Linked DNA regions of Homo sapiens. The protein of the gene in region 3 interacts with the protein of the main gene of each other region in a biochemical or structural test. Each region holds a gene or a part of one and is shown on either strand. Other genes may lie near its edges.

Region 1 (3,654 bases), on a different chromosome or scaffold from region 3:
TGGGTAAAATAGGGAGACCTTATCTCTACAAAAAATTTTTAAGGCCAGGCGCAGTGGCTCACGCCTGTAATCCCAGCACTTTGGGAGGCCGAGGCGGGCAGATCACGAGGTCAGGAGATCGAGACCATCCTGGCTAACACAGCGAAACCCCGTCTCTACTGAAAATACAAAAAAATTAGCCGGACGTGGTGGCGGGCGCCTGTAGTCCCAGCTACTCAGGAGGCTGAGGCAGGAGAATGGCGTGAACCCAGGAGGCGGAGCTTGCAGTGAGCCGAGATCGCACCACTGCACTCCAGCCTGGGTGACAGTGCAAGACTCCATCTCAAAAATAAAAAAAAAATTAAAAAAATTTAAAAAAAAATTTTTTTTAAAGTAGCTGGGCATGGTGGCGCAACCTGGGTGACAGAATGAGATTCTTAAAAAAAAAGAAAAAAGAAGAAATTATGAATTTTTCCCACTTCAACTGAAAATGCTTTATAGAACACAAAGAAAATCCAGGATAAAAAAAAGACAACTACTACTCTAAAGAAAAAAGCAACATCCTAGTAAATTTTTCCCAGTTCATGGCACAGAAAATAGTGCCAACTATTCAGTGGAAAAAGAATCTTGATAATAAAAAAGCAGCCGGGCACGGTGGCTCACGCCTGTAATCCCAGCACTTTGGGAGGCCGAGGCGGGCGGATCACCTGAGGTCAGAAGTTCAAGAATAGCCTGTGCAACATGGCAAAATCCCGTCTCTACTAAAAATACAAAAAATTAGCCGGGCGTGGTGGCGTGTGTCTGTAATCCCTGCTACTCGAGAGGCTGAGACAAGGAATCGCTTGAACCCGGGGAGCAGAGGTTGCAGTGAGCCGAGATGTCGCCACTGCACTCCAGCCTGGGTGACAGAGAGAGACTCCATCTCAAAAAAATAAATAAATAAAGATAATAAAAAAGCCTGGCTAAAACCTATTAAGAGCAGCTATAGAAAAGAATTTTAGTGACCATTTAGAATGAGTGCCCATTAGGCTTTGACCACGTAAGTGATCACTGCTTTCTTTTTAGGTAACCCAAATGGAAAACAACTTTAAGATTGGAAAATACTTCAGCTTTGTAAAAATCCCAAATTTGAAATCTGTTTTTCCTTTGGACAGGCCAGCTCAGAATGACTTACGGACTTCATTTCCTTCACTGAGAATCTCCACCCGGCGCACAAGCTGCTCAAACAGATTCCGCACATTCAGCATCATAGTATCCATCTTTCTGCCAAGAAATCAAATATACATTAGGGGTCCTGCCTTCTCGCCCACAACAAAAGATTCTATAGCAATCCAGCCATTAGTGACCAACATCTGGACTCTTCCATTTATAACTACCATTATAAGAATCTCAAGCTAACAACAGATGTTTTGTGTGATTCTTATTATAAAAACAAACTTGGAATGTTTAAGACTCATCTGAAAATTAGAAAACCATTTCAGACCTTTGAATATAACAGCCCCTCCAATCACTTGGAGCAGAAAACAAATAGGAAAGAGCATGTCAGTTCATTAGCAAGTGACTGACCAACAAGAAAATGTGGTTCTTCAAGTCAAGCCTATTGATTAATATAATAATTTTGCCAGTTTATTCCTTGTGGGCTTTGAAGACCTACAATGTAACTTAAAATATCTATTTTTAATTTCATTTTTAGCTAATGCCCCTGTTGCAACTGCCTTTTAAAATGCAGGACATGGTCAGCACATTTCCTACCAAAAGCACAGATGACGTCACATGAGTGATTAAGTGGGAAAATCGCCAGCTCAGCAGCACAAGAATTATTTCTGTAATACAGGGCTCTCTGCTGGGCTGCGTGCAGGAACTACGTCTAATAAATTTATACTAAGTAGAGGCAAAGGATTATGTTGTACCACATTCTGGCATCAGAGAGACAATACAGCACCTTCACAGTTCGAAGGGCAAAGCAAAAATCATTTGCTACTGTGTCCTGTATAGTGAATTTCAGACTTTGTATTTCCCCTCAAAGGCCTGCTGATACTATAGAAAAAACAGTGTCGTTACAGGCGGTTCTATTCCAAATAGACTTTAACTGGGAACACTTTGAGGAAATAAGATCTTCACTTAACAGTCAAGAAAGAAAGACATTAACTGGATGTTATGAAAACTATCAAGGAAATGAAATAAAAAGTCAAATTTTATTAGAAATTTAATGTCCTCAGAAATACCATTAAAGGATTCTTGTGTTTCTCTTAACCAATGCTTCAACATTCTAGTCCAGGTCCTTATTTCCTAAATAAAATTTTAAGAACTCTTATGAAGGGTTAGTGATTTTGCAATGTTTACAAGATTGCACCACAAGCTATGAGAGCAAGAAAAAATATATAAAAAAGCACAAAGGACAAAGAATATATGAACATAGGCTGGGCACGGCAGCTCACGCCTGTAATCCCAGCACTTTGGGAGGCCCAGGCGGGCGGATCACTTGAGGTCAGGAGTTCGAGACTAGCCTGAGCCAACATGGCAAAACCCCGTCTCTTCTAAAAACACAAAAATTAGCTGGGCACAGTTATGTGTGCCTGTAATTCCAGCTACTTGGGAGGCTGAGGCAGGAGGATCGCTTGAACCTGGGAGGCAGAGGTTGTAGTAAGCTAAGATGGTGCCACTGCACTCCAGTCTGGGTGCCAGAGTAAGACTCTGTCTCAAAAAAAAAAAAAAAAGAATATATAAACATGAAGATATTTTATATATTAAATGCTGCAGAATTATACATTTATACTCATATGATAATTGCTATAATAGAAAAAAAGTTCTCAGTTCCAAGCCTGGATGCAACATATACCTGAATCAGGGCCGGAAACCAAGATTTTCAAACGGCAAGTATCTGTTCCAAGCTACATAATCACAGCAAGCTGCTAAGCAACCAGACCAACAAATTTATTACAAAGATCTTTCTCTAAACTAAGAACAAAACTAAAAGGATAGCATTAAAACCGGCAGGAAGAGCTGTGGAATTCATGGAGATGCCATGGATTTAACATATAATGAAATAGGCAACATACCCTAAGTGCTACAGGACAGAAACAGGGGCAGGACATTGGGTAGTCAATTCAAATGTTGATTTCCTTTGGCTCTCCTGAGGTAAAAATGGAAGACTCTAATCAGTAGTTTTAATATAAGGTATTACTTTCTATCATCTCGGCATTCACTTATATATCGTGAGACTATAAGACAGCTCAATACCACGGCAAAACTTCTATCTGTCCAAGAATTCAAAAAGGAAAATTTCATGGTGCTAGGATGTTGAAAACTGGTTGTTTAAAAAAAAGCTTTTTTAGGGGGGGTTTTAAGTCTTAAATTACAATATAACCTGTTCTCTTGTCCATTTTTTTTTTTTTAATTTTTTGAGACAGAATCTTGCTCTGTCCCCCAGGCCAGAGTCCACTGGCGCCACCTCAGCTGACTGCAACCTCTGCTTCCCAGGTTCAAGTGATTCTCCGGCCTCAGCCTCCTGACACTGTTCTACTCTTCCTGTTCATGTCCATCAACTACGCTACTCACTGACCTACCCTATCCCATACCCTACTGACTTCCAATTTTGATTTCCCTATTTTTATCATTCTCTCAGTCGCTCAGTTCCAAACTTCAGAATCACCTCTGGTTCCTCCCCTTCCCACA
Region 2 (3,754 bases), on a different chromosome or scaffold from region 3:
ACAAAAAAACCAAACACCACATGTTCTCACTCATAGGTGGGAATTGAACAATGGGAACACACGGACACAGGAAGGGGAACATCACACACCGGGGCTGTTGTGGGGTGGGGGGAGTGGGGAGGGATAGCATTAGGAGATATACCTAATGTTAAATGACGTGTTAATGGGTGCAGCACACCAACATGGCACATGTATACATATGTAACAAACCTGCACTTTGTGCACATGTACCCTAAAACTTAAAGTATAATAATAATAATTTCAAAAGACAAATAAAATTTAAAAAAAGATTTATTCATTAACTTAAAAATATTTCTTTAGAATCTGTTCTTGCCAGACACTGTCTAGGGACCAGGACCGCAGCAATGAACAAAATATTACAGTCCTGATATTACTCCCTCATGGAGCCTCAGTTCTACTGGAAGAGACTGATCAAGAAAATGTGTACAAAAAAGTCACATTTTATTTTTACCTTTTTTCTTTTCACTAAACGGTTACCATGACTATTTTAGTTTATTTCTCCTCATTTCCAATAAGACTGAGGTTTTCATTTTAACACTTTCCTTATTTGTGTCACTATCCAGAGACTTTATTGGACTATTGAGTTTGTTTCTTCTCCGTTTATATTCATCTTCCCCACATAGCTAATAATGTCTGTTCTCCTTTATGCCACATGACTTTAGATATTGTACACTAGGCTTCTTCTCTTCTCTTTATTGAAATGTACACACGATTCTCTTGATGATCCGCCAAGGGGTCAGAGCCTCTTGCCCACTGCTAAGCTTGGGACTACCTCTTCTTGTGAAATATATGTTAATATTTTTGACCAAAATATACTAAATCATCTCCTTGTTATGTGTTCTTACATTTTTTTGTAATTTATTTCAAAATAATGTTTGTGCCACAATATTACTCACCACTCAAATCTTCATTCTCAGATATTGAAACTCAATTTTTGAACTAAATTTTTGAACTAAAATACTTCATCAAAAAAGTCTTTAATTTATTTGAGAGATGTTCTTTTCAATATTTGAAGGTTGAACATAATTCTATTACAGAAAACAAATATTTTTTCTAGATTTTTTATGAATGTTAATTAAGTTTTTATTAATTTTACTTTGCCTAAGACCACTATAAGTTCCCAAATTTTTATGTCAGGGTTCAGAAACAGAATATAACACTCTATTATATATAATTACACATAGGGAAGATCCCACAGCATTTTCTATATTTTATAAGTAATATAAACTTTACTAGTTTTATTACTAATCTACTAATATATATAATAATTTTATATACGAATGTATAATTACAATGCTAATTTATATACTAATATACTAATATATACTAATACTAATTATACTAGTTTTTATACTCATTTCTATACTATAAATATACTACATACTGGTATACTTTTATATACTAATTTTTAAGCCAGAGCTTCATTATCAACTGGTACACTCTAAGCTACTTTTTCTTTTATATCATCTATTATCTTTGTTTATGGTTTCCAAGTCTTTTCTACCCCATTAAGAATTTTCTTACAAAGTAAACCACATTGTTTCTTTTTTACTTAATTCTGTATTTCTGTCTCATTTTAATATTGTTTTGAAATATTACAAACTAGATAATAAACTGGGAAGTTTGAGGCTCTAGACAAGTTTGATGAGTAAACTCTTCTAAAAACATTGTTTATAAACATTTAAAGTAGTAAATGCCCCCATACCATTCCCTCCATTTCTCAACTCAGTATGCTACTGCTGTAAACTACCTGCTGGACAAAGCTTTTCCAGTAATTATTTATCTACCCATACTATAATTGAAGTATAATTCTTTTTATAACTGTGATATGCTAAATCAAATTGGAAGATTAATTAAAAAAATGAATCTCCTTTTAATATTAACTATGAACTAGCCTCATACTATATATATATATATATATATATATATATATATATATGCATAAAATTAGCTATTATATTTTCTTAAACTCATGAAGGCTATATGTCATTACCAAATTCTTCTGGGCACTTCTATCTTTTTTAGCCTAAGTGTTAAAAATAATCTCAGTACTACCTTAAATACTTTTATTTCAAACACTATATTTTAAGTAACTACGTTCCTTCTATAGCTCAAGCTACTTTGAAATACATGGTTAGGAGAAGATACAACAAATTTGTATCTAAAATTCTTACCGTTTTTCCAAGATTGAAGAGAAGTGAAGGTAGTGCTGGATGGATGATGGTCCATCAGCTTCTGTGACTGTTTATATACTATATTTAATGACACACTAATTTTGTGATTTGAAATAAGATCAATAGCGAGCTTTAATTCCAAGAAGTCCACATGATTAGAAAATGATTTCTGCCTATTACATATCCCCAGAAATTCTGGGCATCATTATAACAAGGGAACAATTCACAAGTTGATAAAAGAAACCTGTCCAGGAAATGCAATTATTCAATAACAAAAGACAATGACTGGAGGACAGTGATACTCTGGCCCTGTCCCCAAGTTATTATGGACATAATTAGGTCTCTTTAGGGCCTAGTGGGGCCTTGAGATTTCAGTTGTGGGAAAATTGTATGTGAACGCTAGATATACACAGGGCTTCACAAAGGCCACAGTTTCATGTGAACCTAAGCAGTTGTTAGTGCTTTATGCTGAAATGAAGAAACTGACAAGATAACAAGTCCATGATGGTAGCTTAGTTATGTGAGGCAAACTGTTTCTCCCAGGGCCACTTGATTTGGAAAAAAAAATAATTTAGTTAAAACAAATATTTTGTACACAAGATAAATAAACTTTCCTCTGTAATGGAATAACTTGAAGAGGGAATCTGGGTGGCTGGTATAGGCAAAATCTTCAGTAAATCTGTAATAAAAATTTTGCAAAGTATCACGGAGTTTTATTTACCTTTTAATATTGATTATCTCTTTTCAGGTCAAGCATAATTATGATAATATTAATGATGGGTTTTTTTGCTTAGTTCTAACCCTTTGCCAAGCACTAAGCAAAGATATTATCTTGTATAATCTGCACAAGAACATCATGAGGTAGCTCTCCTCTTCATATTTAGGTTGAGAAAACAGAGATGCCAAAAGGTTAAGTAACTTGCTCAAAACCATATTGTTAATGGCAAAGATACCAGTTGGACTCAGATCTGTCTGACTACATGTGATTCTGTTTGATCACATGTGAGTCTCAGAGCCCATGTTTTAACCTTCTGATAATTTTTTATAAAATTTATCTATCAATGTAGCATTTGGTTGAAATATGTACAATTTAATTATGCCTGAATTGGAAAAGTAGGGCCTCTGTGCTGTGTGTGGCAGGGGAGCTTGCCATTAAGGAACTGCTCTTTTAGTTGAGCCTTAGAGAATGAGTAGAATTTTGCGAGATGATTAAATGGGGATAGATATTTTGGCTGAAGAAAACACAGGAACTGAAAGAGCAACATACCAGTTTGAGGATATTCAGAGGGCATACATTGCAAGTTACAATTGCAGAGGTTTGATAGAATCAGATCATGGATGACTGTGAATGTCAGGCATGCACTGTGACATAATTCAGTGGAAGCAAATATATTAGAGATTTGAAAGAAAAATGGATTGTAAAATTTCTTGGATTTCATGACTTTATGACAACAAATCAGGTAACCTAGTAAAGGAAGTTGTTATGTTATGTTATTGCAGTAGCCTAAGACAGACATTATGATGATCTCAAGTAGGGAAATGGTCCTGGGCATCTTAGG
Region 3 (3,654 bases):
TAGAGACAGCGTTTCGCCATGTTGCCCAGGCTGATCTCGAACTCCTGAGCTCGGGCAATCCACCCACCTCGGCCTCCCAAAGAAAAAAATTTTTTAATTAGCTGGGTATGGTGGCACATGCCTGTAGTCCTAGCTACTCTGGAGGGTAAGGCAGGGGGACTGTTTGAGCCCAGGATGTTGGGGCTGCAGTAAGCTATGAGTGAGCCACTGCATTCCAGCCTGGGTGACAGCAAGTCCTGAGACCTGTCTCAAAAAAAATTCCACTGTAATAATTGCTGCAAGGTATGTAGGAACTCTGGGGAGTTTTTTGTTGTTGTTGCAACTTTTCTGTATAAGCCTAAAATTATTCCAAAATGAAGTTTAAGAAAAACCAATACCTAAAAATTGAAAACTGAAAAATGAACTGAAGTTGTACATCAAATTGGTGATATATCCACAGAGAAAAAAAGTATTTCAAGTGACTTTTTAAAACTATGTATCCTTAGTGAAATCGAGATCATACCACTCCCCTCCAGCCTAGGAGACAGAGCCAGACCCTGTCTCAAAAAAAAAAAAAAAAAAAAAAAAAAAAAAAAAAAAAAAAAAGGCCGGGCCTGGTGGTTCACGCCTGTAATCTCAGCCCTTTGGGAGGCCGAGGCAGGCGGATCACGAGGTCAGGAGATTGAGACCATCCTGGCTAACACAGTGAAACCCCGTCTCTACTAAAAGATACAAAAAAACAGCCGGGCATGGTGGTGGGCGCCTGTAGTCCCAGCTACTCAGGAGGCTGAGGCAGGAGAACGGCGTGAACCCGGGAGGCAGAGCTTGCAGTGAGCCGGGATCACGCCACAAAAAAAAGGAAATTTTTATGTTTTTCAATGAATCATGAAAAAGTGTTAGAAATTTTTTTAAAGGCCAGATGTAGCAGCTCATGCCTGTCATCCCAACACTTTGGTGGAGGTGAAAGGATCGCTTGAGCCCAGGAGTTCCAAGACCAGCCTGGGCAACATGGCAAAACACTGTCTCTACAAAAATTAGAAAAGTCAGCCAGGCATGGTGGTGCATGCCTGACAGTCCCAGCTACTTGGGAGGCTGAGATGGGAGGATCAATTGAGCCCTAGAGTTGAAAGCTGCAGTGAGCTGTGATTGTGCCTCTGCACTCCAACCTGGAAAATAGAGGAGAGACCCTGTCTCCAAAAAATTAAATTAATTAAAGTGATTTGAAAGAATTTTTCAGGCTTGGCATTCAATCCATTTTCTTCTTCTTGGGCATGGTACGTTTATCCAGCCATGGTAAGGTCAGTCTTTCCTGGCAGGGCCGAGAAGCAGATGGGCATTGGAACCACGGATTGAAGGACAGAGGCCTGTCCTACTCCACACCTGAGCTCTCAGGGCCAGGGACTAAGCTGCACACACCCCTACAACCTGGGCTTTCTCTGGGGGGTCTGCTCTCTTACCCAGACCCTTGTTGTACCTTTATTGAGGACTGTGAGGGGCTTCCGGTTGCTGGGGTCCAGGCTGCTGGGAGCAATCGAAAACCTTGGTGGAATGGTCAGGCAGGTGATGGGGAGACGGGCAGGGATATAGCCAGAAGTAAAGAACTCGTCATTAAGCAGCTCGTTAATGGTTGGGCGGGCAGTGGGATCTGTCTGAAGCATCTTCTGGATGAGGGAGGCGGCCACGGGGTTGATGTGCTGGGGCAGAGAGAGGGACAGCCATAAGCAGAATGTGAAGGGGACCTGGAGTACAGTACGGCCTCAAAGGAGCTGCAGGTCCCCAGCCCACATGCAGCCCCCAGTCTCAAATACACCACAGGTCAGTGGTTCACAACTTGGTTCAATGCCAAGTTCTCCACTGTCAGCTTTACTGAGCACCATTGACAGAAGGGTCAATGGACTGTGGCCGAACACCAACTCACTTTCCTAGCACTCACTATGTGCCAGGAAAGCATTCTAAGCACTCCTGTGTTTAGCTCACTTAGCCCTCACCAACTCATCTAAGGGGTGGGGATCTATTATCATCCCTTTTTCACAGAGGAGGAAAGTGAGGCACAGAGAGGGTGAAGGCCTTGTCTAGCTGGCTTGATTCCATGCTGTCTCTGACAGTGAACTGACACTTTGTGATGGATTTACTATGTCTGTCCTTATGGTGACAGGCCTCCTGGCTTCACACAAGGACACTACACTTCAAACTGGCTGTGTGCTAGGCTTCTGCAGGAACCAGCTATTCCTTTAAATGTATTTCTGTTGGTGGTTGTGAAAATGCACACCATGGCCGGGCGCGGTGGCTCACGCCTGTAATCTCAGCACTTAGGGAGTCCGAAGCAGGTGGATCACAAGGTCAGGAGATCGAGACCATCCTGGCTAACACGGTCAAACCCTGTCTCTACCACAAATACAGAAAAAAGAAGCCGGGCATGGTGGCTGGTGCCTGTAGTTCCAGCTACTCAGGAGGCTGAGGCGGGAGAATGCCATGAACCTGGGAGGCAGAGCTTGCAGTGAGCCGAGATTGTACCACTGCATTCCAGCCTGGGCGACAGAGCGAGACTCCATCTCAAAAAAAAAAAAAAAAAAAAAAAGAAAATGCACACAACTATGCCATTAGGAAGCCCTGGGATTCACAGTGATTCATAATTCTGAGAGCACTCACCACATGCAAGGCACTCTGTGAGGTGCTCCAAGGCAGGAACTCCACTTTATATATGGAAACTATGGTTCAGAAGATGCAGGCCAGGCTGGGTATGGTGGCTCACGCCTGTAATCCCAGCACTTTGGGAGGCCAAGGCGGGTGGATCACCTGAGGTCAGGAGTTCGAGACCAGCCTGGCCAACATGGTGAAACCCCGTCTCTACTAAAAATACAAAAAAAAAAAAAAAAAGCCAGGCGAGGTGGTGGGTGCCTGTAATCCCAGCTACTTGGGAGGCTGAGGCAGGAGAATCGCTTGAACCTGGGAGGTGGAGGTTGCAGTGAGTCAAGATCATGCCACTGCACTGGGCAACAAGAGCAAAACTCCACCTCAAATAAAAAAAAAAAAAAAAAAGATGCAGGCCATTTGCCCAATGTGATCTCGCTAAGTGGCAGAATCCATTTGAATTAAGATAAACCATTTCTAAAGATTAAGCACTTTTGCCTCCTACTCCTTCCTACCTCCTTTGTTTTTTGCTTTTTACACAACTTTTGGGTTACCCAATCTCTTGAGAATCTGCCAACTCTCTCCCCCTAGAAAAAATGCTTATGTGCACATACATGTCAAGTTCTGTATGCAATTTCAGACACAGGCCCTCTCAAGCTCTGTGGCTACCTTAGAGGTGGGATAGACCTATTTCTGGTCCTAGGATATTGCTGGGCTCCATAAACAGCTTCTGGGGAAAACAAAATAAATGTAAACTTAAAGCATCATTAGTCACCTTGGGAATACTGTATTCATTCTTCTTGATCCGGAGGTAGGTCTCTTTTAGGCAAGAAGTCTCAAAAGGTGGTTTGCCCACTAACAAGGTATACCTGTAAGCACAAGGTAGGATTTGGCACCAGTCTCCCAGCCACAACCCAGACATGAGAGAAATCATCTCAGGGTCAGAACAAAGGTCAGGCATCCTCTGGACACTCACTCTAACTCTGGGGCCCCTGAAGACAATCCCTAAGTCCACTGAGCAGCCCCAGAAGCCATGACATTGGC

Evidence for each region.
Region 1: of the proteins of PLK1 (region 3) and RACGAP1, one has a biochemical effect on the other in vitro, tested with the Homo sapiens proteins (3 studies listed by BioGRID and IntAct, with this or other methods).
Region 2: of the proteins of PLK1 (region 3) and CSN2, one has a biochemical effect on the other in vitro, tested with the Homo sapiens proteins (3 studies listed by BioGRID).

The regions. Positions count from the first base shown.
Region 1 is NC_000012.12:50,015,478-50,019,131, forward strand, and holds part of RACGAP1 (rac GTPase-activating protein 1), read right to left. Parts: intron 3,113-3,654; exon of another isoform or gene 3,075-3,112; coding exon of another isoform or gene 3,039-3,074; intron 1,243-3,038; coding exon of another isoform or gene 1,239-1,242; coding exon 1,154-1,238; intron 1-1,153.
Region 2 is NC_000004.12:69,963,486-69,967,239, forward strand, and holds the start of CSN2 (beta-casein isoform 1 precursor), read right to left. Parts: upstream 2,244-3,754; 5' UTR 2,196-2,243; intron 1-2,195. UniProt on the Homo sapiens protein: Important role in determination of the surface properties of the casein micelles.
Region 3 is NC_000016.10:23,681,889-23,685,542, reverse strand, and holds part of PLK1 (serine/threonine-protein kinase PLK1), read right to left. Parts: intron 3,480-3,654; coding exon 3,386-3,479; intron 1,674-3,385; coding exon 1,454-1,673; intron 1-1,453. UniProt on the Homo sapiens protein: Serine/threonine-protein kinase that performs several important functions throughout M phase of the cell cycle, including the regulation of centrosome maturation and spindle assembly, the removal of cohesins from chromosome arms, the inactivation of anaphase-promoting complex/cyclosome (APC/C) inhibitors, and the regulation of mitotic exit and cytokinesis.